Linked DNA regions of Homo sapiens. The protein of the gene in region 1 purifies or fractionates together with the protein of each later gene. This does not show direct contact. Each region holds a gene or a part of one and is shown in the gene's direction. Other genes may lie near its edges. The genes, in order: TAF6L, TMED5, PCDHGA5, PYGM, PCDHAC2, TNFRSF13B and MYH7.

What was found.
Region 2: the proteins of TAF6L (region 1) and TMED5 purify together in Homo sapiens (co-immunoprecipitation; one large-scale study listed by IntAct). This does not show direct contact.
Region 3: the proteins of TAF6L (region 1) and PCDHGA5 purify together in Homo sapiens (co-immunoprecipitation; one large-scale study listed by IntAct). This does not show direct contact.
Region 4: the proteins of TAF6L (region 1) and PYGM purify together in Homo sapiens (affinity purification with mass spectrometry; one large-scale study listed by BioGRID and IntAct). This does not show direct contact.
Region 5: the proteins of TAF6L (region 1) and PCDHAC2 purify together in Homo sapiens (co-immunoprecipitation; one large-scale study listed by IntAct). This does not show direct contact.
Region 6: the proteins of TAF6L (region 1) and TNFRSF13B purify together in Homo sapiens (co-immunoprecipitation; one large-scale study listed by IntAct). This does not show direct contact.
Region 7: the proteins of TAF6L (region 1) and MYH7 purify together in Homo sapiens (affinity purification with mass spectrometry; one large-scale study listed by BioGRID and IntAct). This does not show direct contact.

The regions. Positions count from the first base shown.
Region 1 is NC_000011.10:62,777,802-62,781,839, forward strand, and holds part of TAF6L (TAF6-like RNA polymerase II p300/CBP-associated factor-associated factor 65 kDa subunit 6L), read left to right. Parts: intron 1-176; coding exon 177-327; intron 328-483; coding exon 484-534; intron 535-1,067; coding exon 1,068-1,162; intron 1,163-4,038. UniProt on the Homo sapiens protein: Functions as a component of the PCAF complex. The PCAF complex is capable of efficiently acetylating histones in a nucleosomal context. The PCAF complex could be considered as the human version of the yeast SAGA complex.
Region 2 is NC_000001.11:93,159,628-93,163,665, reverse strand, and holds part of TMED5 (transmembrane emp24 domain-containing protein 5 isoform 1 precursor), read left to right. Parts: intron 1-3,439; coding exon 3,440-3,537; intron 3,538-4,038. UniProt on the Homo sapiens protein: Potential role in vesicular protein trafficking, mainly in the early secretory pathway. Required for the maintenance of the Golgi apparatus; involved in protein exchange between Golgi stacks during assembly.
Region 3 is NC_000005.10:141,366,762-141,370,799, forward strand, and holds part of PCDHGA5 (protocadherin gamma-A5 isoform 1 precursor), read left to right. Parts: coding exon of another isoform or gene 1-11; exon of another isoform or gene 12-1,022; intron 1,023-3,480; exon of another isoform or gene 3,481-3,633; coding exon of another isoform or gene 3,634-4,038. Other genes in the region: PCDHGB3 (protocadherin gamma-B3 isoform 1 precursor), read left to right, coding at 3,634-4,038. UniProt on the Homo sapiens protein: Potential calcium-dependent cell-adhesion protein. May be involved in the establishment and maintenance of specific neuronal connections in the brain.
Region 4 is NC_000011.10:64,749,723-64,753,760, reverse strand, and holds part of PYGM (glycogen phosphorylase, muscle form), read left to right. Parts: intron 1-78; coding exon 79-242; intron 243-573; coding exon 574-688; intron 689-1,256; coding exon 1,257-1,358; intron 1,359-1,689; coding exon 1,690-1,837; intron 1,838-2,105; coding exon 2,106-2,164; intron 2,165-2,294; coding exon 2,295-2,436; intron 2,437-3,177; coding exon 3,178-3,385; intron 3,386-4,038. UniProt on the Homo sapiens protein: Allosteric enzyme that catalyzes the rate-limiting step in glycogen catabolism, the phosphorolytic cleavage of glycogen to produce glucose-1-phosphate, and plays a central role in maintaining cellular and organismal glucose homeostasis.
Region 5 is NC_000005.10:140,972,687-140,976,724, forward strand, and holds part of PCDHAC2 (protocadherin alpha-C2 isoform 1 precursor), read left to right. Parts: intron 1-4,038. UniProt on the Homo sapiens protein: Potential calcium-dependent cell-adhesion protein. May be involved in the establishment and maintenance of specific neuronal connections in the brain.
Region 6 is NC_000017.11:16,968,854-16,973,605, reverse strand, and holds the start of TNFRSF13B (tumor necrosis factor receptor superfamily member 13B), read left to right. Parts: upstream 1-1,487; 5' UTR 1,488-1,530; coding exon 1,531-1,591; intron 1,592-4,752. UniProt on the Homo sapiens protein: Receptor for TNFSF13/APRIL and TNFSF13B/TALL1/BAFF/BLYS that binds both ligands with similar high affinity. Mediates calcineurin-dependent activation of NF-AT, as well as activation of NF-kappa-B and AP-1.
Region 7 is NC_000014.9:23,432,861-23,437,679, reverse strand, and holds the start of MYH7 (myosin-7), read left to right. Parts: upstream 1-2,019; 5' UTR 2,020-2,060; intron 2,061-3,430; 5' UTR 3,431-3,486; intron 3,487-3,939; 5' UTR 3,940-3,947; coding exon 3,948-4,148; intron 4,149-4,452; coding exon 4,453-4,596; intron 4,597-4,819. UniProt on the Homo sapiens protein: Myosins are actin-based motor molecules with ATPase activity essential for muscle contraction. Forms regular bipolar thick filaments that, together with actin thin filaments, constitute the fundamental contractile unit of skeletal and cardiac muscle.

The DNA.
Region 1 (4,038 bases):
CTCCAGGCAAGTCCCCAGTGGTGGCTCTGAGTCCCAGGCTTCCACCACTTTTCTTGGGACTTCTGGACTTCCTTCAAACGTGGGCTCTCTGCTCTGGTCAGTGGAGCCTCATCCTGGATCCTGACGCCTGCTCCCTCCCTGGATTCAGGCTGCTCTCCAATTCCCTTTTTCCTCAGGCTGTGTGTGGTTACGGATCACAGGAGGCACTGCCCATGCGCCCCGCCAGGGAGGGTGAACTCTACTTTCCTGAGGATCGAGAGGTGAACCTGGTGGAGCTGGCCCTGGCTACCAACATCCCCAAAGGCTGTGCTGAGACAGCTGTCAGAGGTGGCTGCCGGGGTCCTGCATGGGTTGGGGATGGGAGTTGGGCCGTGAAGAGAAGTGGTGATGGGCTGGCTGGTGGAAGAGGCAGAACTTGGAGGGGTAGGCGGTACTCTAAGGGGCAAAACGCCAGGCTGACACATCTCTCTGCACTGCTTCTAGTTCATGTCTCCTACCTGGATGGCAAAGGGAACCTGGCACCTCAAGGATCGGGTAAGGGGTGATGTAGGAAACAGGCTCTTTGGATGAATTTTCTCCCTTAGGTTCTGAGGGTGGTGCCTATGTGCCCCCGAGTCTGCGTCTAACATGTGTTTACCCATGCCTGCCTTGTGCCATGGTCTGAGTGGGCGCTGGGCTCTGCATGGAGGGCTCAGAGTTGGAGATGGGGGCCCAGACCTGTAACTAGTCATAATGCAGCATGTTGGATGCTAAGACAGAAGTCTGGGCAGCATGCTGGGGCGGTGTTTCACCCCCAGGGTATGCTGAGCAGAGCTTCACAGAGCCTGAAGCTCTCAGGAGTCCGTCTGGCAGAGGGTGGGTGGAAGACAGGACAGAGCACAGAGGTGTGCAGAGCCTAGATGGTCAGGGCTGAGCAGGCTCTAAGAGCAGTCTCTTGCCCTGGTTGTCCTGTCAGAAAGGCTTCTTGTGGATGTGTGTGGGGATGGTGGTTGAGGGGGAGGAGGCTGGAGAGGCCAGGAGAGGGCCAGCTCTCCACCTGTCCCTGCTTCCTGCCTGTCCTCTGGCAGTGCCCAGTGCTGTGTCTTCACTGACAGATGACCTTCTCAAGTACTATCACCAGGTGACTCGTGCTGTGCTAGGGGATGATCCGCAACTGATGAAGGTGAGCGAGTGGGCCCAAGTTGGGGCACAAAGTTGAAATTGTAAATTCTAGACCTGTTTTTTTTTTTTTTTTTTGAGACAGAGTTTCGCTCTTGTTGCCCAGGCTGGAGTGCAATGGCATGATCTCAGCTCACCGCACCCTCTGCCTCCCAGGTTCAAGTGATTCTCCTGCCTCAGCCTCCTGAATAGCTGGGATTACAGGCGTGTGCCAGCATGCCCGGCTAATTTTGTTTTGTTTTGTTTTGTTTTTGAAACGGAGTCTTGCATTGTCACCCAGGCTGGAGTGCAGTGGCGCGATCTCGGCTCACTGCAAGCTCCGTCTCCTGGGTTCATGCCATTCTCCTGCCTTAGCCTCCCGAGTAGCTGGGACTACAGGTGCCCGCCAACATACCCGGCTAATTTTTTGTATTTTTTAGTAGAGACGGGGTTTCACCGTGTTAGCCAGGATGGTCTTGATCTCCTGACCTTGTGATCCACCTGCCTCAGCCTCCTAAAGTGCTGGGATTACAAGTGTGAGCCACCGTGCCCAGCCTTATATTTTTAATAGAGACGGGGGTTTCAGCATGTTGGTCAGACTGGTCTCGAACTCCCGACCTCAGGTGATCCACCCGCCTTGGCCTCCCAAAGTGTTGGGATGACAGGTGTGAGCCACTGTGCCCGGCCTAATTCTATGAACATTTAAATTTTTATTTATTATTTTAATTAAAAAAACATTTTTTTTAAGATGGGGTCTTGCTCTGTCACCTAGGCCGGAGTGCAGTGGTGTGATGTTGGCTCACTGCAGCCTCTACCTCTTGGGTTCAAGCAATTCTCCCACCTCAGCTTCCCAAGTAGCTGGGATTACAGGGGCATACCACCATGCCTGGCTAATTTTTGCATTTTTAGTAGAGATGAGGTTTCACCGTGTTGGCCAGGCTGGTCTCAAACTCCTGACCTCAGGTGATCCACCCGCCTCTGCCTCCCAAAGTGGTGGGATTACAGGCGTGAGCCTATATATATATATATATATATATATTTTTTTTTTTTTTTTTTTTAGAGACAGGGTCTCACTGTATTGCCCAGGCTGGTGAAACTCCTGCCCTCAAGCAATCCTTCCTTGGCCTCCCAGCACTTTGGGAGGCAGAGGTGGGCGGATCACTTGAAGTCAGGAGTTCGAGACCAGACTGTCCAACATGGTGAAACCCCATCTTCACTAAAAATACAAAATTAACTGGCTGTTGTGGTGGGTGCCTGTAATCCCAGCTACTCGGGAGGCTGAGGCAGGAGAATTGCTTGAACCCAGGAGGCAGAGGTTGCTGTGAGTCAAGATCACACCACTCAGGTGGATCACCTGAGGTCAGGAGTTCAAGACCAGCCTGGCTAACATGGTGAAACCCCGTCTCTACTAAAAATACAAAAATTAGTCACGTGTGGTGGTGGACGCCTGTAATCCCAGCTACTCAGGAGGCTGACGCAGGAGAATCGCTTGAACCTGGGAGGCAGAGGTTGCTGTGAGCTGAGATTGTGCCATTGCACTCCAGCCTGGGCAACAAGAACAAAACTTCATCTCAAAAAAAAAGATCACGCTGCTGCACTCCAGCCTGGCTGATAGAACGAAACTCCGTCTCAAAGAAAAACGAAAAAGTAATACTAGTACATGTTTACTGTAGAAGTACATATAATATAAAAACATAGAAAAAGAAAGTGGCTGGGTGCGGTGGTTCACGCCTGTAATCCCAGCAGTTTGGGAGGCCGAGGTGGGTGGATCATGTGAGGCCGGGAGTTCGAGACCAGCCTGGCCAACATGGTGATTTCCCGTTGGATATCTACTAAAAATACCAGAAAATTAGCCGGGCTTGGTGGCATGCGTCTGTAATCCTAGCTACTTGCGAGGCTGATGCAGGAGAATCGCTTGAACCCAAGAGGCAGAGGTTGCAATGAGCCGAGATCGCGCCACCGCACTCCAGCCTGGGCAATAGAGTGAGACTCCATCTCAAAAAAAAAAAAAAAAGGGCCGGGCACGGTGGCTAACGCCTGTAATCTCAGCACTTTGGGAGGCCGAGGCGGGTGGATTGCTTGAGGCCGGGAGTTCGAGACTAGCCTGGTCAACATGGCAAAACCCTGTCTCTACTAAAAATACAAAAATTAGCTGGGCGTGGTGGTGGGCGCCTGTAATCCCAGCTACTTGGGAGGCTGAGGCAGAAGAATTGCTTGAACCCAGGAGGCAGAGGTTGCAGTGAGCTGAGATTGAGCCACTGCACTCCAGCCTGGGCGACAGGGCGAGACTCCATCTCAAAGAAAAAAAAAAAAGAAAAAGAAACTGAAAAGTCTATTCCTCCACCTACTTTTTTTTCTCTGTATCAACTATGATTACTCTCATAAAAACCTAAGTGGTATTATATTAAGCATCTGGTTTTATAGATTGCCTTTCTCAGTTAAAAATGTTGGATGGCCGGGCGCGGTGGCTCACGCCTGTAATCCCAGCACTTTGGGAGGCTGAGGTGGGCAGATCACGAGGTCAGGAGATCGCGACCATCCTGGCTAACACGGTGAAACCCCGTCTCTACTAAAAAATAGAAAAAATTAGCCGGGTGTGGTGGCAGGCGCCTGTAGTCCCAGCTACTCGGGAGGCTGAGGCAGGAGAATGGTGTAAAACCTGGGAGGTGGAGCTTGCAGTGAGCCAAGATCGTGCCACTGGGCGACAGAGCGAGACTCGGTCTCAAAAAAAAAAAAAAAAGTTGGACATTCAGGTTGTATTCAGGGCCATATGCAGGTATATGTGAATGAGTTTCTGTAGGTTACATTTATAGAAATAGAATTGCTAGATCAAAGAATATGAACATTAAAATTGTAAAACATGAATAAGGTGATACACTGTCTTCCAGAAGAATACCGCAT
Region 2 (4,038 bases), on another chromosome or scaffold:
TGTATTTTTAAAGTGTATTTTATGGCCAGGCACAGTGGCTCACACCTGTAATCCCAGCACTTTGGAAGGCTGAGATGGGCGGATCACTTGAGGTCAGGAGTTCCGAGACCAGCTTGGCCAACATGGTGAAACCCCATCTCTACAAAATACAAAAATAGCCGGGCATGGTGGCGCATGCCTATAATCTCAGCTACTCAGGACACTGAGGCGGGAGAATCATTTGAACCTGAGAGCCAGAGGTTACAGTGAGCTGAGATCGCGCCACTACACTCCAGCCTGGGCAACAAAGCGAGACTGTGTCTCAAAAAAAAAAAAAAAAGTATATTTTATGATTTTTTAATTAACCTTCCATAGTCTTAAAAATCATTTTTCACAATTTCATTAAGCCTGACAGCCACTACCAATAACTGCTTTTTAACTTTGTTTTACTGAAATCTTTTCTTAGCTTTGTTACATTGCTTGTTTTCTGATTTAATATATATATTTTTTGTTTTTGGAGGGTATCCTTGAGTAATTCTTTGAGAATGTTTTGAGTCCTTGGATATCTGAAAATAACTTTATTTATTTATTTTAAAATTTTATTTTAGAGATGGGTTTTCACTGTATTGCCCAGGCTGGAGTGCAGTGACTACTCACAGGCACTTTCATAGAACACTACAGGCTTTAACGCCTAGCCTCAAGTGGTCCTCCCACCTCAGTCTCCCAAGTAGCTGGGAATACCAGTGCATGCTACCACACCTGGCAAATGGCTTTATTTTTGCTTTCATGTCAGTAAATATCTTTTTACTTGGGAACATTGACTACATGGCTCCATTATTTTTTTCCATCTAATGTTATATGTAAGAATTCTGATGCTAATCCCAATTCTTGTATTTTGCAGTTCTCTACTACTTCTGCTACTTCTCTTTGATAGAAGATTGTACTTTTTAAATCCTTTGGAAAACTCCATATTTTATGGTCTTTTTTCATTTATCCTGCTTCACATTTATTAGATCCTTTCTGTCTGAAGATTTTCATCTTTTGAAACAGGAATTTTTCTTCTTTGTGGGTTTTTTGTTTTTGTTTGACGTGGAGTCTCACTCATTCTTTTGCCCAGGCTGAAGTACGGTGGCATGATCTCTGCTCACTGCAACCTCCGCCTCCTGGGTTCAAGCAGTTCTCCTGCCTCGGCTTCCCAAGTAGCTGGGATTACAGGTGTGTGCCACCATGGCTGGCTCATTTTTTTATTTTTAGTAGAGATGGGGTTTTGCCATGTTGGCCAGGCTGGTCTCAAACTCCTGACCTCAAGTGAACCACCCGCCTCGGCCTCCCAAAGTGCTGGGATTACAGGCATGAGCCACCGCACCCAGCCTATAGATTTTAATTGTTACATGTCTTCTTCATTTCATTGGGATTTAAAGAAGAAAATTATGTACATTTAGCCAGCCATTTGAAACCAGTTCTGTTGAACAATAAAAGCACAGGAGTAGGTAATTTTTTATATCATCACATTAAAACTACCATGAAAAATAAAATGGAGTGTTAAGAAAAAGAGTAGCCATTGAGTTAGGTTTTTTTTTTTTTCAGTTAAAAGGCTGTACTATATAGTGTTCCAAATAGATTCTTTTTAAAATTTTAGCAAACACTATAAATACAGAAGAGAAAACGCAGGGAAAGAGGAAGACAGGAAGAGAAGTTTGCAGACAGATCTACAGGGAAAACACTGAGACACTTTAATTTGTATAGGATGATAAAAAGATGCATTTATTAAATATTTGCATCTGTGACAAAAAATCAAAATATGGATAATAACATTGTTAGGACCAGTACCCTTGGAGTTATAAAAATAGTGAACAAAATTTTCATCCATCTTATCATCTATGTTGGATATGCCACATAGGTGTCCATAAAGGTACCTACAAGTTTATGCTAAGTGAATCCTACAAAAAGATGCTTAGATTCCAGAGAACGTCTCATAAGTGCCAAAGAGGATAGGTGTGCAATCTGTAGTAATACAAGAGAGAGTGTGAGAGAACTGGACAGGAGGATTCAGAGGAGATTTCAAAGGACTTGACCCATTTATGCAGGAGGTTGCAATTTTTTGAATTGCAAAATGAGACCTTGGCAATGACCTTGAGCAGTAGGATATAAATAACTCCTACATGCTTAGTGTTCCACTAATGGAACACAAGGCATAAATGGGTTAAACTGGCTCTTAAAGAATGAATACAATTGGATGAGTACCTATTCAGGAGAATGGAACAGAAATAGAGGCAACACAGCATACTTATTAAAAATTATTCTAGAGGCAGATTGCTGAGTTCAAATTTTGACCATGTCACTTATTTGCTGTATCACTTTGGTTTATTTTTTACTTATTTTTTTTAATGTGGCCTAGATGAATTAATGCTGTGTCACTTTGGAAAAATGATTTCTCTGTGCCTCAGTTTTTGTTGTTTTTTTACTAAAATGAGAATAATAGGACCTACCTTTTAGAGTTGTTATAAGGAATAAATTAATCCACATAAAGCATTTAAGACAATTTATGGCATCAACTATAATTGTTAGTTGCCATGATTATCATCATCATCTTCATAGAAGGACATTTTGGAATTACAAATGGATAGATTGTATTCATTGGCTAGTAAATGAACCGGCCTGCTTCGAATACACAATTCATACTGGGAAGTAGTAGAAGAATGTGTTGAAGTCAGTTGGAGTCCACACCATGGTGGTCTTGAATTCCAGGCTAAGAAACAGTTAATTATTATTCTTTTATTGAAGAGGAAACAAAAAAGTTATATACAATGTCTGAAATTGCCTAAGTCTTTTTTTGGGGGGGCAGGGGAGGCAGGGGGGGCGGGGTACCGAGTCTCACTGTCGCCCAGGCTGGAGTGCAGTGGCACAATCTCGGCTCACTGCAACGTCCACCTCCTGGGTTCAAGCGATTCTCCCGCCTCAGCCTCCTGAGTAGCTGGGATTTTTCTATTTTTAGTAGAGACAGGGTTACACCATGTTGGTCAGGCTGGTCTCGAACTCCTGACCTCATGATCCACCTGCCTCGGCCTCCCAAAGTGCTGGGATTACAGGCGTGAGCCACCGCGCCCTGCCAATTGCCTAAGTTTTAACTAAAACGCCCAGCATTTGAACTGCTCTTTGTGTTTCCGTCCATTCTACAGGGATTCTGAATGAAACCACTATTTTAGGAAGATTTATTTCAGTAATATCCATAAGGCCTAAATTTAGGTGATGGTGAGAGAAATGGGTAAGGAAGGGACAAGTTCCAAAAATGAATGGAATTGAACTAGATGATCTTTTGGTTCTTTTCTAGCTCAGACATCACTGATGACTTTCTTACCTCTCTAGCTTAGATAATCTTTACATCATATGATCTACTGTATATAATTTTTTATTTCCAGAATTTGTAATATATGTTTTTCTCATGTATGCTTTTCTACAGGTTTTAGATGGAGCAGGATTAGATATTGATTTCCATCTTGCCTCTCCAGAAGGCAAAACCTTAGTTTTTGAACAAAGAAAATCAGATGGAGTTCACACGTAAGTAATCTCTTTTAGTTGAGTTTCATTGCTGAATAATACCAGTGGGTTATCTGCAGGGCATGGAAAGTTAGCACATTTGATACTACATATCAATATTAGATAATTCCATATGATTTAAAACAGTTCATGATAGTGTGCCATCTGATAAACAAAAACATCTTCCATTAACCTTTCTATTTTTGTTTAAGCGTTTTCTTTTGATCCAGGCTAAATTTTTTCTGTGCTTTGGTTAGTAAATTAGTATTCCCCTGGTATTCCATTCAATCTATCGTGGCATTTTAAACCTGCCTTCTGGCCAGCACAAGCTTTCTATTTTAACTTAAAGCTACTGTTCCAGGTATATGTCTTAAAGTTTCTTGAGCTGCTGGCTATATGCCATTTTTGTCCATAGTTTTCTTTCTTAAAACAGGACAGTATATCTTTGTGTGTACGTAAATTTTTTTTTTTTATTCAGACCTCATTCGTTTTAGGTAATTAGAAGGCCTGAAAGTAAAAGAT
Region 3 (4,038 bases), on another chromosome or scaffold:
TCTTTCGGTAAGGATGACCAGAACATTTTCATTTGTTTCCTTTTTCATGTTTCTGTCATATTCAGAATCAGCTAGTTATGTAAATAGTGGAACATTATTTGCTGTATTGGAGATTAATTTTTTTTATATAATTCATGCTTTCTCCATTTGTTTTCAAATTCTGTTTTGGGAAGTCTAGCTGATATCTGTAGACTTAAGTGAAACAAATACCTTAAAGGAAAGTGGTTAAATATAATCATTTTACCCAAATATTTTGTTATATTGGAACTGCAGTTCTATTAATAGAAAAGATGTTTTATTTATTCAAATTGTTAGATATATTGTTCTCTTTTGAGTGTCTGCCTAGACACCATTAGTGAATGTGTTTTGGAAAGGATAATGTATAGGACTGATATTTTAGTCTACCTGAAATTTGTTTAAGGAAATAATTTACAGTATTTACATAAATCAGTGGAAAGGTACAGAGAACTTCTGGGTCATAAATATCAGAAAAGAGGCCGGGTGCGGTGGCTGACGCCTGTAATCCCAGCACTTTGGGAGGCTGAGGTGGGCGGATCACGAGGTCAGGAGATCGAGACCATCCTGGCTAACACGGTGAAACCCTGTTCTACTAAAAATACAAAAAATTAGCCGGGCGTGGTGGCAGGCGCCTGTAGTCCCAGCTACTCGGAAGGCTGAGGCAGGAGAATGGGGTGAACCCGGGAGGAGGAGCTTGCAGTAAGCCGAGATCGCGCCACTGCACTCCAGCCTGGGAGACAGAACGAGACTCCGTCTCAAAATAAATAAATAAATAAATAAATAAATAAATAAATATCAGAAAAGTAGATAAAATTTATATTAATGATAACATGTAGCATTCTAAAGTCTGGAAAGTTTGTGTTAAGCCATGTAGTTATTGGATATGTGGGCTTGTTGAGAGAAGAAATCAGTGTAAAGGAACCTTAAGGTTGGGCTTCGTTCTGTGATGTAAAGCCTCCAGAGAGTTACATACTGCTGCACTCAATAAATGTAAATATGTCACACACCTGGCATCTTCTGTTATAGATAAACCCTTTACTTATTAGAATCAATACCTACTGCAATGTTAGCGTTTCTTTAAGTGTAGGTGCAATTCTTCTTTATTACTTGAGTTTAAGGTTGTATTTGAAAAAAAAAGAACTCAACTTAAAGATGGTTCAAAATTTTAAATTTCATATCTAACGTATGTGCTCATCTTAAATTAATAGATTTGTCTTAATGAAATACTGGCCTATGTGCCTCAAATTCCAGGAGGATGTGTTATGTAATGAAAGAACTACTATATTTCCCTTCTGCATCTGATTTGCTGAAGATGATTTTCAGATGTTTCTTATTAAAATATTCTTAATCCTTCAAATTTTGTACTTTTAAAACCTTGAGCATCAGCTTCAAATAATGACTAAATAAGGGGAAAAGGTAATAAAATATTACAAATGGGATAGTAAGCTACATTACTCAACCACATGAAAGGTTAATTGACACATTAAAGAACCTAAGACCACTTGATTTTTATTTTTTAAACACTGTTAAAGAGCATTCAAGTATATCTATATCTATATACATATACACACACATATATATACACACATATATATACACACATACACACACACAAACACACATACATACACACATGGACATTCTGACCAAAATGTAAAATGTACAAACTCACCGAATAGTGAATGCATCCAAAGAGTAACAAGAGAATCTATACAGTAGGTGTCGACATTATTCACTCCTATGTGAAAACTTGCTTTTCCATTTTTTTTAAAAGAAAATGTTATATGCTTCTTAGGGTAAGGTGTTTGGGAAAAAAGTAAAGGTTATAGATTTGGGTACATTTCTTCTGAGTTAAATGTTTTGTGCAATGGAAAAATATCTTTAAACCCTCTATAAACTACTAACAGACTATAAAATGCTTGATCCATACATTTTGAATGTATGTACTGTATATACCATATACTTTTAAATATCTGAATCTTTAGTTTTATATGTGTTCTGAAGAATAATTTTTCATACTAATTGAAGTGTTCATACAATGAACACTTGGCATTGTGTTGGAAGGCACTTGCTTTGGAATGTTTTGGAGCAAAGTCTTGAGTCAGTTATATTTTTGATGTTTGTATAAAGGTGACAATGAGTGTCTGTCTAGAATTCTGGTTACTGTGAGTAGTTTAAGATGCTATAATGCTTTTCCACTATAAGGTGAATTCGGTGTGGAACTCATTGCTTATTGCTGCACACTTGCCTAGTTTTAGAGTAACAATACATTATGTAGGCTAAAGATAATTTCTTTAGGAAGATTTTCTGGTTTGAAAATGGAATTAAAACTGTAAGACACCTGTCAGAAACATGGAAAATGGCATGTTATTGACCAGGGAAAAGTGTAAATAACAAAAAGTTAGGATTATCAGATGGTAAACTGGGGACCAAGGAAAAGTGGACAGGAAGATTACTTATATAATTAAATAATATAATTATAAGGACTTACAATTCACTCCCCAATCCTAATAACGCATCATTGTTAGGCTACTTGAGAAGAAACAGTACATTTCAGGACAATTGTGATGTAGTATGAAAAAACATCCTTTGTAAAAGTTTTTCATTTGGGCCAGGGTGGTTCATGACTATAATCCCAGCAATTTGGGACGCTGAGGTGGGAGGATTGCTTAAAGCCAGGTGTTCTAGCCCAGCCTGGGCAACATAGTGAAACCCCACCTCTATAGAAAAAAAAAGTTTTCAATCATACTTATTTAATTAAAAGTAGACACTTGGAAACAAAGGAAAAGAGACCCTCTTGCTTTTTACTATACTTCTATTTTATAAGGTCAATCATTTCCTCATTACCTTTAACTTCTTTTGGGGGGAGATAATAAAGATAAAAGAGAAGAAAGTGAAACATAGAATAAAACTAAAAGCTATGACATTATAACTTTTAGAAGTTAGAAGTAAAGGAAATAGAATGCAATAAGAATACACGTGAAGCTGATATTTCAAGCCTCTTTATACTACGTCTTCTGCCATCACCAAAAATAGCTTCCATTTGTATGATTTTCTATGTATTATTTTATTTGGCCCTCATTTCTACTAGAGTAAGCAGAGAAGATATTATTATGACCATTTTATGAAAATGGAAACTAAAAACGTGACGGGATTGAGCAAGATTATCTCTGCCCTTTGACAAGTAAAAGGTACTTGATTTGGATGGATAAAGCTCAAATTAAAAGAAATAACAGACTAAAGATATAGTAAGTATATTTAATGTTTTTTAAAAGTCCTTTTAAAATGGGAAGAAAGTATCACTATCAGTACACTGCCGATTTTTCTCCTAACTAGCTCCTTATTTGGAGCTGATTTAGTCACCATTACTGCAGTTCTGCAGCAGAGGCGCCGGGTGCCGCTCTTGGCTAGTGCTGTGCAAAATATTGGCTCCTCCCGCTGCAGCCAGCTCGGAAGAAAAGTGCACTCTCTATCAGGCTTCCTGCAGCGGAGACACCCATTAGAGAACCCAAGCACAAAGACAAAGCAAATAGTTGGTCCTGCTCGGAGAACTCTTGGGATTATTTAAAGATCTCCTCTCCTCGGATTTAGAAAGGCAAAGGCGCAGAGAGCGGGATGGGAAATAGCTCCGGATGGAGGGGCCCAGCAGGGCAGAGGCGAATGCTATTTCTCTTCCTGCTCTCTTTGTTAGACCAGGCTCTCTCCGAACCGATCCGCTACGCTATTCCCGAGGAGCTGGACAGGGGCTCGCTGGTAGGGAACCTCGCCAAGGACCTGGGGTTTGGCGTGGGGGATTTACCTACTAGGAACCTGCGGGTTATTGCAGAGAAGAAATTCTTTACCGTGAGCCCCGAAAATGGGAACTTACTTGTGAGCGACCGTATAGACCGAGAGGAGATTTGTGGCAAGAAGTCGACGTGTGTTCTGGAATTTGAAATGGTTGCTGAAAAGCCTTTAAACTTTTTTCATGTAACTGTGCTGATCCAGGATATTAACGACAACCCACCGACCTTTAGCCAA
Region 4 (4,038 bases), 2.0 Mb from region 1:
AGCTCTGGGGGTGTGGGGCTGGGGACTGGGGATGGGGGTTCCTGGGTCTGGTTCTAGCTCTGGGCTCTCTGGGCACAGCGGGTGGCGGCCGCATTCCCAGGGGACGTAGACCGGCTGCGGCGCATGTCGCTGGTGGAGGAGGGCGCAGTGAAGCGCATCAACATGGCACACCTGTGCATCGCGGGGTCGCACGCCGTCAACGGCGTGGCGCGCATCCACTCCGAGATCCTCAAGAAGACCATGTGAGCCCCGCTTTCCAGATCCCGCCCCTCTCTAGGCCCCACCCACTCCACGCCTCTGTCACACAGAAGCCCCGCCCTTCACCGACCACTCTCTGGTCTCTGGGCCCTGGCGCCTTTCACAGGTGGCGTCATTCTTACAAGCACAGCAGCCCCTTCCAGTGCCGCCCTGTCCTGAGATGACCTCCTCTTACACACAGCACCCCCAACCTTCCCCAGGTCTGCATTCCCTGCCCCAGGCCCCTTTCAGCAAGACACCAGGGTAGGGGCCCCAGGGCAGAGGCCTTCATTGTACAGGGGTGAGTGGTGACCCTCGTCCAACCTCATCCTGCAGCTTCAAAGACTTCTATGAGCTGGAGCCTCATAAGTTCCAGAATAAGACCAACGGCATCACCCCTCGGCGCTGGCTGGTTCTGTGTAACCCCGGGCTGGCAGAGGTCATTGCTGAGGTGAGAGGCCACCGTAGGGCCAGTAGAGTCAACATGGGTCCCTGCAGGGATCAGCTGGGTATGGTCGTGTAGGTGGTTCACTGCATCAGGGCTCCCAGCTGAAGGCTGAAATCCCTCCTGCACTGTGTTCCCCAAGCCTCGCATCCACCTGGAGGAGGGACACCATCTTAATTGCATGAGGGTGCTCTGTGTGCTAATGGAGGCCCTGGCTGTGGAGGTGAACACAGCAGAGGGAGTCATCCATGGGTCACATCTGAAGTGAGCCTGGAAGGGGGCAGATATCTGGTAGGGAAGGCGCAAGGTCATGCTGGCGTTAGGAAAAGGCCAGGAAGCCAGGAAGGCCTGCTGGGGTCAGGTGGGGTCAGCCATCAGAGCTCAAGGACGGGAGGGGAGGAAGGTGCATGGATGCCCCGTGCCCCATCTGGGCGGCTGGAGGAGGAGGGGCTGGGAGGGCCCCCAGAGCAGCCTGCTGGGTGAAGGGGGCTTGGCTGACCTGGAAATGGCCCCTTCTGTGTTGGGAGGAGGGAGGACATGGGGATGGGCTTGGCTGAGAGCCGTCTTCCCATAGCGCATCGGGGAGGACTTCATCTCTGACCTGGACCAGCTGCGCAAACTGCTCTCCTTTGTGGATGATGAAGCTTTCATTCGGGATGTGGCCAAAGTGAAGCAGGTGGGGAGAGATGCAATGTGGGACAGCTGTGCTGTGTGGAGAGCGCTGGAGGGGCCAGATGTCTGGGTCAGGCGTGGCAAATAGAGCTCATCTCTCCTGCCAGCCCAGGCCGTTGGTGGAAGTTGCCTGGAGTCTGTGGTGGGAAGGCATCATCTGACCTCACATGAACAGTGCTGACATTGATTAGCAATGTCTGCCCTGGTACAGGAGTGGACAGAAGTAGCCAGTGAGCCTCCTGGTAGCCATCCTCCTGGGGCTGACTGGAGTGTGGACTGTAGGATTTCCTGAGGCTGTGGCCTGTTGGTGAGCCCTTCCCCGTCTCTGCCTCCAGGAAAACAAGTTGAAGTTTGCTGCCTACCTAGAGAGGGAATACAAAGTCCACATCAACCCCAACTCACTCTTCGACATCCAGGTGAAGCGGATTCACGAATATAAACGACAGCTCCTCAACTGCCTCCATGTCATCACCCTGTACAACCGTGAGTGGCAGCCACTCTACCCTGTCTCTCAGTGCTCCCCCGTGTTCCTGCGGCATAGTACATATTGCCCAACCAACATCTCCTTTGGACTTGGGACTACTCTTGGGACATGGAATTATCCCCATTTCACAGATGGGCAAACTGAGGCTAAGAGAGCATAGCAAGTGATTGTTCGAGTCAGGCCTACGGTGTCCCAGCCCAGCCTCTGTCAGGAGCTACTACCCAGAGGGAAAGGTAGGCCCACTGGATCCCTCTCGTTTCTCCACAGGCATCAAGAGGGAGCCCAATAAGTTTTTTGTGCCTCGGACTGTGATGATTGGAGGGAAGGTGAGAAGCCAGGCTCCAGCCCTGGGCTCCCGTCCTTTGATATATCCAGGTTGAGGTCAGCCCAGCTGAGTTGCAGGATAGGGGGTGGGGGGCCAGGCAGTAGAGCTGACCCCAGACTTTGTCCCCTCAGGCTGCACCTGGGTACCACATGGCCAAGATGATCATCAGACTCGTCACAGCCATCGGGGATGTGGTCAACCATGACCCGGCAGTGGGTGACCGCCTCCGTGTCATCTTCCTGGAGAACTACCGAGTCTCACTGGCCGAGAAAGGTGGGTGCTGCCAACAGGGACCCTAGGGAGGCTCTGACTAGTTCAGTCTCAGGAAGAGGTATCAGTCGTCTCTTCCTGGGATACTTGTACTTGAAAGAAGAATCTGGAGAGGGCAATGCTTAAACCATGAGGAGGCCAGGCGCAGTGGCCCATGCCTGTAATCCCAGCACTTTGGGAGGCCAAGGTGGGTGGATCACCTGAGGTCAGGAGTTCGAGACCAGCCTGGCCAACATGGTGAAACCCCGTCTCTACTAAAAATACAAAAATTAGCTGGGCGTGATGGCAGGTGCCTATAATCCCAGCTACTTGGGAGGCTGAAGCAGGAGAATCACTTGAACCTGGGAGGCGGAGGTTGCAGTGAGCCGAGATCACGCCATTGCACTTCAGCCTGGGCAACAAAAGCAAAACTCCGTCTCAAAAAACAAGAGGAAACAAAACAAAGCAAAAACCCCATGAGGATGCCCTCTAATGGTGGAATTTCAGGCAGTACAGGGTGAAATTACCTTCAAATCTGCAACAGAGGTGGGGAAATCCAGGTTGGACCTAGATGGTCAAGAATCAACAAGAGGTAGAGGGCAGTGGGGGTGCGGTGTGAGAGGGAGGCTTGGCTGGTGAAGACTGGGAGTTTGGGGTGGGGCGACTCTGAGTCCAGCTATGCCTGGGGCCAGCCTAATCTGAGAGTCCCCAGCTGGTGTGAGGGTCTTCCCTGAGTTGACTTGTCCCCCTGCTGCCACCCCACAGTGATCCCAGCTGCAGACCTCTCTGAGCAGATCTCCACTGCGGGCACTGAAGCCTCAGGCACCGGCAACATGAAGTTCATGCTCAACGGGGCTCTGACCATTGGCACCATGGACGGGGCCAATGTGGAGATGGCAGAAGAGGCGGGAGAGGAAAACTTCTTCATCTTTGGCATGCGGGTGGAGGATGTGGATAAGCTTGACCAAAGAGGGTATGGGGGTCAGGGTTCACGGGCAAAAGACACCCAGGTGTGGCTGCTGGAGAGTGGTGCTGGGAGCAAGCGGCACGTCTGGAAAGACTGGTCCAGGCCCAGCAAGGTCTTGGTCATGGCCAGCAGGATTCTGGGAAACTTTAGAGGGCGCTTACAGCAAATAAGGTTAATGAAATTGGAAAAGAAAGAAGTAATATAGAACTGAAGGAAAAGGAAGAGAATATTATATCAACCCTAAGAGATAATATTGTTTGGGAAATGGAAGTAAAAAAATCCTTGCTCTACGCCGGGTGCGGTGGCTCACACCTGTAATCCCAGCACTTTGGGAGGCCAAGGCGGGCGGATCACAAGGTCAAGAGATCCAGACCATCCTGGCTAACACGGTGAAACCCCATCTCTACTAAAAATACAAAAAATTAGCCGGGCGTGTTGGCAGGCGCCTGTAGTCCCAGCTGATCGGGAGGCTGAGGCAGGAGAATGGTGTGAATCCAGGAGGCGGAGCTTGCAGTGAGCCGAGATCGCGCCACTGCGCTCCAGCCTGGGTAACAGAGTGAGACTCTGCCTCAAAAAAAAAAAAAAAAATCCTTGCTCCCTGAAAGCCATGGGCAAAAGGGAAATATGGGCACAGTAGTTACAAGGGGCCTATGGTCAGA
Region 5 (4,038 bases), on another chromosome or scaffold:
TGGAGTCTCACTCTGTTGCCAGGCTGGAGTGCAGTGGCGTAATCCCGGCTCACTGCAACCTCCGCCTCCCAAGTTAAAGTGATTCTTCTGCCTCAGCCTCCTGAGTAGCTGAGATTACAGGCACGCGCCACCACGCCTGGCTAATTTTTGTATTTTTAGTAGAGATGGGGTTTCATCATGTTGTCCAGGATGGTCTCGATCTCTTGACCTTGTGATCCACCCGCCTTGGCCTCCCAAAGTGCTGGGATTACAGATGTGAGCCACCATGCCCGGCAAAGGAAACCAAATCTTAAGGTAGATTCTGTGCATTTGTGGTCGTGGTGTTGTGATTGTTAATGAGTCACTTTGAGTACTCTAGTAGATTTGTCCAACAGTGTCTCAGTGGGCCCAGCTGGCACAACATGTAGAAATTATGAAAGAGTAGCAGAGATGAATTAAGTTTGCATTCACTTTCACTTATTTTAAAGCAATTTGTAGTCACCAAACCTTCAGTTATTTCTGCCACTATGTGTGCATATTCACCCTAATTCCAGGTATAGTGACCTGAAAGAGTTAATTCTTCTTTCAGTGGCACCTACTTTTATTTCCCCCAGCACTGATTTTTCTATCTGATGACTCTATCCTGGAACAGAGTTTACACTCGTTGTAAAGTGACATAGTAGTGAATTTATAAAAATTGCACAATGGTCAGAATAGACAAAGAAATCATATCTATGAGCTTCCACTCCAGTTTTTCATCCTCTGATGGTCACTTTATAATGACTGGGGCTGTTTTAGTTTGCAAATTTCATATTGGTCACAGGACTCTTCTTCTGAGAAAAAGTTTATTTTCTTTGGTCTGATGATACAATAATTTATTTCAATTACCTCTTTCCTCAATTTTTCTACAGACTGCTGAGCCAGATGGAATTATGGCTGAGCTCTTCTCTGTTTCTGTATCTTGTACACATTCTGACTGAAGAAGAAATCTATTTATTGTAGCTTGAATGTCATTGGCCTACTGTTTCCTTCTGACCCAGGAGTGAGCCATCACATGGGCATCTGGTCTAACTCAGAACACTCTGCAGGGACACAGCCTGGCATATTATAGGTTGCCTATTGGCATGCTGTCTACTTGACAGAATAGCAAAGTCAGTTCTGGGTACTTGCTTGTTGCCTACCAATTTTTGCTCTCAATGAGAGGTCAGAATAATGTCAATTTGCAAATGTTTGAGGAAACATTCCTGTCACCAAACCCAGAGGTTTAGCTGAATATGATGGCATTTTACAGGTGTCTTTAAATGTGGCTTTTACAGAACTTCACCTGGATCAATGTTTTGTGCATGTGATAATACAACTATAAATTTAGCTTATTAATATGATAATATTTGGAGCAGTATAATCTATAACCATGACTTCAAAAATCAAAGGTTAAAAGTATTCTTTTGCAGTGTTTTAAATCTGCTAACCTGAAAACTATACAAGGGTTTTTCTTTCAAGAATTTTAACTTGACAAATGCAAAGGAATATCCAACATTGCAAAGGTAAAGAGAAATCTTAGTTCCTTGGCATATAAGCACCATCAGTTCCTTTCTGGCCTTCCAGGGTCAGAACTCTGGGCTCCAAGGAGGTACAACTGTGAGTGAGAGAGTAGCTGCTGTGCTAGCAGGCTATGCATCCAGAACTAAACAGACCTAGCACTTTCTGTTGTACTGGAACCCATTAGGTATGTTCTAAAGTTATGTTTATTTTACTTTCCTGGTTTGTAAATTAGCATTTTAAATGACTACATTCAGAGGAAAGTATTCCACCCAGAATTCTCAAATGTATTACCTTTGTGTTTTATTTTATTTTAGTTTTTTTGAGACGGAGTTTTGCTCTTGTTGCCCAGGCTGGAGTGCAATGGCATGATCTTGGCTCACTGCAACCTCTGCCTCCAGGGTTCAAGCGATTCTCCTGCCTCAACCTCCCGAGTAGCTGAGATTACAGGCATGCGCCACCATGCCTGGCTAATTTTGTATTTTTGGGTTTCACCATGTTGTTCAAGCTGCTCTCGAACTCCTGTCTCCACCTTGGCCTCCCAAAGTGCTGGGATTACAGGTATGAGCCACTGCGCCCAGCCCTCATTTTGATATACTAGAAGACCAATATGCAACATAATGATTATTTTAAATGTTATATTCCCTTTTGCCTTAATGCGGAACAGTCTATGTATCCCTTTTCTGATGATTTGTAACAAATTACCACAAGTAAGTTGTTTAAAACACCACCTATTTGTTATCTCACAGTCCTGTACCATGTGGCTGAGTTGTCCGCTCAGGTATTCTCAAGGCTGAAATGAACACAGCTGGGCTGTGTTGTCCTTTGCAGGCTCTTAGGAAGAATCTACTATCGAGCTCATTCAGATTGTTGGCAGAATCCAGTTGTTTGGGGACTGAGATCTCTGTTTTCCTACTTACTATTGGCCTGGGGTCACTCTCAGTTCCTAGAGAACTGAGGACTCAGGACTCTTGTCCCATGGTCTGCTCCATCTTCATGGCTGGCACTGGAGAATCTTCCCTCACATGGAATCCCTCTTATGCTTCAGATCTCTCTGATTTCTGTCTCTGACCTCTAGACCCAGATTTAAAGAGCTCATGTGATTATGTCAGTCCCATCCAGATGATCTCCCTTTCTTAAAGCCAACTGTGCTACATAGCATAATGTAATCATGGGAATAAGATCCATCACAATCACAGTCTTGGAGACTATTCAGGGTGTGCACACCAGGATATAGGGATCTTGGGGCCATCTTGGAATTCTGCCTATCAGTTTATATCAATGTTCATAAAATAGCACTATGCAAAATCTGCAGTGGATATATTCTTAATACAGTCCTATTAGGAAGGAAAAGGAGATATTATATGCAGTCTCATGTCCCAGAGGGCAATTTGTTGATGTCTTCCACATGGATTTCCATGGTACGAAGATAGCATATTATTTCATTGAGTAGTTGTGTGAGTTTATTAATAAAATAGGGTATTTTAAACTTATTTTACTTTAAATCTTAGAAGAGGTGATTCATCCTTCTGTAGCTCAAATATTCTATGTCATAAATCACAGATAATACCATTACAAGATAAATTAAATCTTTTTTATAATTTTAATAGGAACTGAAGTGTATTCTTATTCTTCAGTAATACTACATCACCCATATGGACTACCTAATTGATTTTTTCCACATATGGAGTTTTGTGACCATTATTCTACCAAAAGACTAACCTTTGAAGCAATAGGACATATTAGAGTTCTTCACCAATAGAAAGTAAGCATAGTCCTGGGAGGTACCATCTAAGTATTAAAGAACTAAATAATCACAGTTATTTCAACTGTGATTGAAATTGTGATAGTAATATATGTCTTACTGTGTCAGATATATCAGTAGTCAACTTTTCAACTTGAATTTTTCCAAGTTTAATCAAGTTCTGGATGAAACTCATGTACATTTTACTACTTTTAGTTTTGTATTGTTTTAAATCAATATCCTGGAAACTCAGAAGTAAAAAAGAGAAAGAAGAAAAATATATGTCATTTCATGTAAATTTATTTAAAACACAGACTTTTGGCAAGGCACAGTGGCTCAAGCCTGTAATCCCAGCACTTTGGGAGGCCGAGGAGGGTGGATTGCCTGAGGTCAGGTGTTCAAGACCAGCCTGGCCAACATGGTGAAACCCCATCTCTACTAAAAATTCAAAAATTAGCCAGGTACGGTGGCAGATGCCTGTAATCCCAGCTACTAGGGAGGCTGGGGAAGAAGAATTGCTTGAATCCGGGAGGCAGAGGTTGCAGGGAGCCAAGATCGCGCCACTGCACACCAGCCTAAATGACAGAGTAAGACCCTATCTCATAAATAAATAAATAAATATAAATAAAACACAGACTTTTGTGTTAAGGGGACCTAAACATGACTGTCAGCTGAACTCAGCAATCAGACAAGTAATTTAATCTCTCCAAAGTTCAGATGTCTCATTTTTGCAATTTAAGTACAATAATGTTGACTTTGCATTATAGTTCATTTAT
Region 6 (4,752 bases), on another chromosome or scaffold:
ACTCTCCAGAACGCTGCTGCCAGCTCCCTCCCTCCAGTGGGCCCTGAGTTCATGCTTCTGTAGATCACCCCCCTGCCCTTGATGTTACCAACTTTAAAACTTTGCAACCTGATGGCTGAAAGTTAGTTTTTCATTGTTCAGTTGTTTTTCTGATTTTTGGGAGACTGGACATTTTCCTGTGTTTGCTGACCGTCTGCATCTCCTCTCCTGCTCTGTGCACCATCACCCTGCTCCAGCTGCTTCCTGCAGCCTCCCTCCTTCCTCTCCACCTCTCCATGTCCTCCTCGTCCTTCAGTTTCTTCCTAAGGGCCCATGGGCTTTCTTTGGCTTTTACGTTCCTCTCACTCCGCCTTTGGCTGTTGCTGGGCCTCCCATCCCCTGGGAGGTTTCAGACGATGGGGAAGACACAGGAGTGCAGTCGCCATGCAGTGCAATACGGGCTGTAATGTTCCTCCTCCACGGCCTTTATTGAGGACTTACTGTGTGCCAAGAACCTGCTCTAAGAATGTAACTGTGCTCCCTCCCTCATTTCATGCTCATAACCGCCTGTGAGGCGGGCAATGTTCTCATCCTTTTTTTTTTTTTTTTTTTTGAGATGGCATCTCTGTTGCCCAGGCTGGAGTGCAATGGCACGATCTCGGCTCACTACAACCTCTGACTCCCAGGTTCATTCTCCTGCCACAGCCTCCCAAATAGATGGGACTACAGGCACGCGCCACCACACCCGGCTAATTTTTTGTATTTTTTTTTAGTAGAGATGGGGTTTCACCGTGTTGCCCAGGATGGTCTCGAACTCCTGAGCTCAGACAATCCACCTGCCTCGGCCTCCCAAAGTGCTAGGATTACAGGCGTGAGCCACCATGCCCGACCTCATCCTTGTTTTACACAGAGAACATGGAGGCACAGAAGAGTTCCATAAATTGCCACCAAGGCCTTCTGCTAGTATGCAGCAGAGTCAAGATTCAAACGCAGGCTGTCCGGTCCTGGGGTTCAGCCTCTCCAGTGCTCTGCTAGGTGTTGGAGAGGGTCAAGGAGATACAGAGAATGAGTACCACCTGACAGGCTGGGACAGTCAGGGATGGCTTCCTGGAGGAGGTGACACCTCAATGGAGCCTTGAAGGAAGAGCAGGAGGAGCCGACCAGGCAATGAATAGAATAAGTATACCCAGGAAGAGGGAAAGGCCTGAGTGATGCTGGGAGGGTGGAGAGCTGGCCTGGCTTGGGGTGTGTGCCGGCGGGCAGGAGATGAGGACCAAGGGATGGCCAAGGCCAGATCTAGAAGAGCCTGGGCCATCCCATAGTCAATACCTCATCGCAAGGCCCGGCAGGCCTTCCACTGCTCTGTGTGTACCCCATGGGACGCCAGGAGCCTGGGCCGCAGCCACCCACCTGGGCTCCTGAGACCCAATGCACAGGCATGGGGGCGGGAGTGGGTGTGGCTGATTTACATCCAACAGGTTGAGGGGAAAACCCAGGAAGTGCAGCCCAAGCACTAATCAAATCTAAGACTAGTAATAAGCATCCTGAGTAATGAGTGGCCTGGGCCGGAGCAGGCGAGGTGGCCGGAGCCGTGTGGACCAGGAGGAGCGCTGTGAGTAGCCGGGCAGGAGGGCAGGAGGGCAGGTGGGAGGTGTGAGGAGGGTTGGGCCTGAGTGCCGTGGGGGTTGCAAGGTCCAGCAGGTGCAAAGCCCACAGCAGATCCACACACTGGGGCAGTCCCAGCCTCCCCAAGCTCCTGCACATGGAGAGCCCCGAGTCTGGATGCCTCTGGGATGTGGGGCTTGCCTTCCGTGACAGAAGCCACTGAGGTTGCAGGGTTGGCCACACCGGCAGGAATTCCCTTTGTCACCATGGCCCCTGCACAGCCCCCATTTTCCCCCTTACATGCCCGCTGGACCATTTTAATGCTAATCTCAAATACCAGATTGTTTGAGTTGTGGAGACCACAGGATTTATTCCTTAAGAACACAAACCCTAAAAACAAAACAAAAAACTAAGCATCATACCTTCACCCCTGCTGAAACAACAATTCCTGAACATCATCACATAGCCCGCCAGGGTTCAAACTGTACCAACTGTCTCACCAATGTCTTTCTCAGTTGACTTGTTCAAATCAGCCTGTCCCACATTAGACTTTTGGCTATGTTTTAATCTATAACAGTTTCCACCCATTTTTTCTGTTATATATTTATATTTATATTTATCCTATAGCTTTCTTTTTTTTTGTTTTGTTGTTTTGTTTTTGTTTTTGTTTTTTGAGACAGAGTCTTGCTCTGTCACCCAGGTTGGAGTGCAATGGCATGATCTCGGCTTTCTGCAACCTCCGCCTCCCGGGTTCAAGCCATTCTCCTGCCTCAGCCTCCCGAGTGGCTGAGATTATAGGTGCCCACCACCACGCCCGGCTAATTTTTTGTATTTTTAGTAGAGATAGGCTTTCGCCACGTTGGCCAGGCTGATCTCAAACTCCTGACCTCAGGTGATCCACCTGCCTCAGCCTCCCAAAGTATTGGGATTACAGGCATGAGCCACGGCACCCGGCCCGTATAGCATTTTCATCAGGGTGGGTTTCTAAGGTTTTATGAAAGGGCCCCAGGTCCTTTAGTGCAGACAGAACCCATGGCCAGATGGACCCGGGGCACAGCCTAGATTCACAGCCTCTGCCTGCTGCTCTGTCCCACACCTCAGGCAGGGAGCAAATTTGTTCTTCAGTCCTTTTTTGTGTCCAGCCACCAAGTCCCCAGAATCTACACAGCCAGGGGCTCAAATATGTAAAGTTTCTGAGAGACTTGGACAAGGCAGTGACCAGAGGCTGCCTTAACACAGGATGAAATTGCCCAGTGCTCTGGGGCCACGAGTCAGGACCCAGCTAGAACTGTGACCTGGCAGTGGCAGAAGCTGTCTGGTGCTGCCGAATCAGCCCTGGCCGGTTGTCCACTGGCCCACTCTGGGACCTTGGCTGAGCCGCTTCCCCTCAGTGTAAAATGAAGAAGACTGTCTTTCCTACCAGACATCCCTCAAACACACAAAAGTGCTTTGATGAAACTACCAGACCCCCTCTTGGGGAGTCATGAGGAAAGGCTCTGAGAAGCCCTGCGGTTAAAAAACTGCCTTGACTTTCTTTAACCCAGTGTTTTTCAAACTAATCCGACCACAGAGCTCTTTCTTGGTGCAGCACCTGTTAACCGGCCAAGCCCGTGAGGAGGCACAAGCAGAGGGCTCTGAGAATCACCCTCCTTGGCTGCTCTCTGGTCTCGGGGTGCAGGAGAGAGTCTCCATCCTGCATCCAAATTTGTGGCGGCCCAGAGTCTGAGCCCAGCCCACACAGCTAGTGTCAGAGAGGTGTTCCCTTTCTTCCCTTTCCATCAACGAAGCTTCTCTCTCAAGCTTCTATTCTGCCTGGCTGGTGTCAGTCATGGGGTTTTCCTGCCCTCCTTTGGCACTTGATGATGGTTCTGGGATTTTATGTAGGTCCACATGGTGGTAGAGGAGGGGGCGGGGACAGGCCCTCTGGTCAGCTTGGCATCTGCTGTCTGGTCAGTCAGGCACTGTCTCTCTGTCAGGTCCAGTGGCTTTTGGTGGCTTTGGTCCAGGCAATGAATGGGTCTTGGAACATCTCCAAGGCTGCCCTTGTCACATAGAACGTCCTGCCCACCTTCCACTCAACCAACCCTTCACGGTGATATGCGGCGGGTGGTGGCTTTCTCCCTCTTTGCTCCCCAACCCAAAAGTGGGGAGAATCGGGTCTGCCTTTAATTTTGTTTGATCCTTTGATTTTAGATTTGCCTTTGAATAGATAGTATAGTCAGATGGTTTGAAACCCAGAAAGTATTGAAAGATATATAATAGAAAGTCTTTTCTTCCTCCTTGTCCTCCATCTGCCCAGTTCCCACCTCCCCTAGAATAAGCAGCTTTATTTACATATAACTTACATGCCATGAAATTCACCTGTGTAAAGCATACAAGTCTGTGTTTTTAGTATATTTACAGAGTTGTGCAACCATCACCATAAGCTAATTTTGGAAGATTTTGATGACCCCAAAAAGAAACTTTGTCAGTCTTCATTCCTCCCTAGCCCCAGGCTAATCTACTCTCTGTCTCTATAGATTTGCCTGTTTTGGACATTTTCCATAAATGGAATCATATGTGATGTATTGTGACTAGCTGCTTCCACTTGGCATAATGTTTTCAAGGGCCGTCCATGTTGTAGCAGGTATCAGTACTTGCTTCAGTTTTGTGGCCAAGTAACATTCCACTTTATGGATATGTCATGTGGCTTTTCCAGTCATCGGTGGATGGACATTTGGGTTGTTTCTACTTTTTTTGTCACTGTGATTATTAAGAAAGCTTCTATGAACTTTTGGATTCAAGTTTTGGGTGAACATGTCTTCATTTCTCTTAAGTAGATAGATACCTACAAGTGGAATTGCTGGGTCATATGATAAATTCTATGTTTAACATTTTAAGGAACTGCAAAATGCTTTCCAAAGCAGCTGCACTATTTTATAATTCACTTCATGCATGAGGGTTCCAATTTCTCCACATCTTCACCGACATTTGTCATTGACTGTCTTTCTCATTCTAGCCATCCCAAGGGGTGTGAGGTGGTATCTCACTGTGGTTTGGATTTGCATTTCCCTAGTGACAAATGATGTTAAGCATCTTTTCATGTGCTTCTTTAGCCATTTATATGGTTTTTTTGGGGAAAATGCCTATTGAAATATTTAGCCCATATAAAAATTGGGTTGCCTTTTC
Region 7 (4,819 bases), on another chromosome or scaffold:
CAAGTCCCCAGCCAAGGAAGGACGCTGGCCTGTGGTGAAGACACTGGCTTTGAAATGGCTCAACTACGTCCCAAGCACCCTTTGTGCATCTTAATTGCCCTGGGAAATCAGGGAGGGGTGGCAGTTTGGAGCTTGGAAAGCTGGAAGGTGGGGACGAAAGGAGTTTTTGCCCCTCATCGCCAATCCTTGAGGTTCCTACAGGGAACCTCAGACAACAGCTGTCTTAGGGGTTTCCTTCCAGCTCCAAGCAGCTGTATTATCTATAGCTTTGAGAGGGTCTGTCTCTGTCAATGGGGCTGATTCCTCAGCACCTGGCAGGGCCTGGGGGGGACTGCCAGAGTCTGTTCTGCCGGGCATGTTAGTAGCACAGACTACTGGGATAACCTCAGCAACTGTATACCTTAGCACTGCAGAGCTGCGGTGTTGTCAGACACAGCCCTTGCAGTTCGTGGTCTACCCCCACTTGCCTGCACCCCCCTTATAGCTGCTCAATGTCCTCAGACTGTACCTTAGTGCCTTGGTTACCAAGCAACCCCCACAGAGGCCTCCTCCTGGATTTTCCCTTCCCTGCTATGCCCACCCCACCTTCAAAATGTACCTGCTGCACCCATCCCCCAGGCCTGCCTCACTCCTTCCAAGCTGACAGCTAATCAGATGGACTAATCCGCATGCGCGGAAGAGCTGTGCTTGGGAAGAAGGGGGAGATTTCACACCAAATCGTGCAGTGGTTGCCTAGACACGGAGCCAGTCAAGCTTGCATGCCCCGTTGCTAGAAGAGCATGGCATCGGTTGTGTTCTGTGCTCGTAGGCTGGGCCCCAGCTCCCTTTCCTCCCCTCCTTTGTGGCTGTTCCTCAGGCCTGCAGAGGGGAAGATTTTTCCTGTCCTGTTACTCTGCCTCACTTGCCAGAACACTAGTCGCCTCCAGCTCTGGATAAAGCTGAGGCTGGGTGGGCCAGACAACAGCTGTCTTAGGGGTCTCCTTCCAGCTCCAAGTAGTTGTATTATCTATAGCTCTGAGAGGGTCTGTCTCTGGGCTCAGGCCTTTAGTACCTGTGGGGCAGAGCCAGGAACGTGAGTCAGGCAAACCGCTCCAAACTAGGACCAATGCAGCTGGGTCCTGCTCTCTGCGCATAGGGGGTCCCCACATCTTTGGAATCCCAGCCCACCTTTCCAGGCTACCCTCCACAGGCCGGGCTCCACTCCCATCTGCTGAGGTTTCCCACCTTGAATCCTGCTGCCCCGATTAGCTGTATAACCTTAAAGAATGCACTGTCCCTCTCCATTAAATGAAGTGCTTGGATGGATTGCTAAAGGCCTGTCTGGCTCGGAGGCTTGGTGACCTCAACACATTGCCTGCTGGTCCAAGGAAATCAGTGCCTGAGCCAGAGTCCCCATCTCTAAGCTCCATGGTTATTGTTCTTGCCACCTGGCTAGGAAATGTCCTTCCAGCTGCCCCAGTCTAGCTGCCTCACCCTGGGGCCATGCCCCCAACTCTGTCCTACCCTTCTCTGCTGCTGACACTCAGCCCCTTCCCAGCTTCCAGTTGGATACAGGACCTGGGCCAGGAGAGCAGGGAGGACACTGTGGAAATGCGGCCAGGCCATCAGGGGCCTCGCAGCAGGGGACTGGAGGGGGAGCAGTGTCCAGGGCCAGAAGTGCCCTGCGGGAGAGCCAGGACATTGGCTGCCTGTGGTCTTGGTGGTCGTGGTCAGTTCCCTCTCCTGCCAGCTGTGGAATGTGAGGCCTGGCCTGGGAGATATTTTTGCTGCACTTTGAGCCACCCCGCCCCCTGGAACTCAGACCCTGCACAGTCCATGCCATAACAATGACGACCACTTCCAATTGTTTCCTAGCTGGAGAGGCGGGGAGGGGAGCACTGTTTGGGAAGGGGGGGAGCCTGGGGGAAATGCTTCTAGTGACAACAGCCCTTTCTAAATCCGGCTAGGGACTGGGTGCCGTTGGGGGTGGGGGTGCCCTGCTGCCCCATATATACAGCCCCTGAGACCAGGTCTGGCTCCACAGCTCTGTCCTGCTCTGTGTCTTTCCCTGCTGCTCTCAGGTAGGAGCGGGAGCTGGAGGCTTTACTCTGGGATAAGGGGGCTCCAGGCTTAGGAAGGGATTCCTCTTGGAATAGCAAGCTTCATGCAGGACTTCATGCAGAGTACCAGGTCCAGTCACTGGGCACACATGTGCAGGTCTAAACATGGGCGTATGTGCCACAGGAGTTCCTAGGGGAAGATATCTGCATCTGAGCATATGGGACCAATATGCATTACAGGGTGTGTGTGTGTGTGTGTGTGTGTGTGTGTGTGTGGACAAGCCTGCATAGTCTGAATGTGAGAAAGGGTATGTACCTCACTGACTGATACAGAAATATCAAGTGGGAGATGTGGGTGTATGATCACGTCTGTGAACGAGGAGGTTCCTTTGCAGGGAGGGAGAAAGAATGGTGGAGAAGGATTCTAGGAAGTGTGTATGCCTTCATGTGATTCTGTGAGGCCTGGAATGTGTAGCTACCCCTGTCCATGCATGCAGAGGTTCTTGTCTATGCCTCCACGAGTCATGACTGTTATAGTATCTGTACCCTCTGCAGAAGGAACTCACAGGCACGGGGGTGTAGGATGTTCCAGGTCTTTGTGTACTGAAGAACACGCAGTGATGTGATCTACTTACGTGGCACACATCCTGAAATGTGCACATTTGCTGTTGAGGCATATATGGCACCCTGGGGTTGGGGTGCGGATTGAGGTATGGGAAGGAAGCCTGTCTTCATGTGAGAGGCATGCCCAAGCAGCAGGCATGAGTGTTCATCAGAGGGCTTGTGGAGGGTGTTTGGCTATGTGATGGGTGTGTCTGTGAGAGGAAGCCCACAGTGTCTTCTCTCTGAGAATGTCCACAAAGTCTGACAACAAAATGGGGACAGGATGGAAAAGAAGTCTCTTTAGAGTCATCAGACTTGCATTCAAGTCTTGGCTCTCCCACTTGTTGTCATGGGCTCTTGGCCAAGCAAGCCATTTAACCTCGATTTCCTCATCTGTCAAATGGGGTGAAGACTGAGTAGGAGAAAGTGCATTGAAGTGCTTTTAGACTGGAAAGTGCCGAACAAATGTGACCATTAGTTGTCTCTCAGATGGCTCAAAGAAAGGTACCACTAGATGGGTACAGGCAGGGGTGGGACCATCTCGCAGGAGTGAAGAGGATTAGGGTTCAGGTTGAGTTGACACCAGGAAGCTGTTAGAACTAGTTCTTGAGGAAAAAGGGAATAGGGTTTGAAAAACAAGAAGGATGGGACCAGAGAAGCTGACCACCCTTTCCACCTTGTTTTGGAAGAGGGTGGATGCTGAAGAACAGAGCCAGGGAGAAGCAGGAAGGTGGGACTGGTCAGGTTGGGCACAGCCTGCCCTGACACAGCCTCTTCCCTCTCTCCAGGTCCCCTGCAGGCCTTGGCCCCTTTCCTCATCTGTAGACACACTTGAGTAGCCCAGGTAAGAAAAGCTGAAGCTAGAGTGTTGAAAATCTAGTAAGACTGGGCATTAGAGCCCCAAAGCCAGCCTATGGAACTCTAGTTTCTGCCATGTGCTGGAGAGAATATCTTGGCTATCAAGAGCTACTTACCTGTGACCAGGGGGTCCAGGGATAGATGAGGGTCAGAGATGGAAATAGTTAGATTTCTGCTCCTACAGGGAGCTCAGAATGCTCTTCCTTCCCCTAGGAGAGCCCCAGCTTGAACAATAGTTAGTTGTTCCTTTTACCCTGGCAGGTTTGCTAGGCTGCTCCTCTGGTTAAGGGGTAACCTCAAAGAGGAAGGGACTCACTGGTAACTCCTCTTGACTCTTGAGCATGGTGCTAGGTTTTGGGGCTCCCACTGAAGGGGAGAGCCCAGGGAGGGAAGGGAAGAATGGGCAGATGGGAGGGCAGCCAGCTTCTGCTCACTCCAGGCACAGCCATGGGAGATTCGGAGATGGCAGTCTTTGGGGCTGCCGCCCCCTACCTGCGCAAGTCAGAGAAGGAGCGGCTAGAAGCGCAGACCAGGCCTTTTGACCTCAAGAAGGATGTCTTCGTGCCTGATGACAAACAGGAGTTTGTCAAGGCCAAGATCGTGTCTCGAGAGGGTGGCAAAGTCACTGCCGAGACCGAGTATGGCAAGGTGGGTGTCAGGCTGATGTGAGAGTCCACCCTGGCCACCTGTACACCTGGGTGGACAGAGAGGGGTACACCCATGCCCCATGCCCATGCAGACCTGAGGATGGTCCCATTCTCCTTCCCTTTGGGGAAGAATCCAGACCCTCCAAAGAGCCCTCTCCTTCCCAATATCCCTTCTGTCTTCCCTGTGAGATCCTGGTTCCTTCTCTCTTGAGCACTATTGCCCTGTCACTCACCAACTCCTAACCCTCTTGAGGAAGGAGGGAAAGCCCAGGCTGACAGGAGGGCTTGGGTGGGGGCTCTTGCAGACAGTGACCGTGAAGGAGGACCAGGTGATGCAGCAGAACCCACCCAAGTTCGACAAAATCGAGGACATGGCCATGCTGACCTTCCTGCATGAGCCCGCGGTGCTCTACAACCTCAAGGATCGCTACGGCTCCTGGATGATCTACGTGAGTGCTGCACCTGGCCCTACGTTGGGATCTCTGTTCTTGCTCCATCCATGTCCACCCCAGGAGCCAAGAGTGTCTTCTGTTTGTGTCTAGGCAGGGTTACACTCTAACCTCGTCCCAACATCCTTGGTTCAATTCCAACACTCTGGGGACTGGCATTACTCAGATTGAGTGCATGCAGAGGTTTTCCTTTCTCTTCTTTCTCTCCTGGGATCTTTCTCTA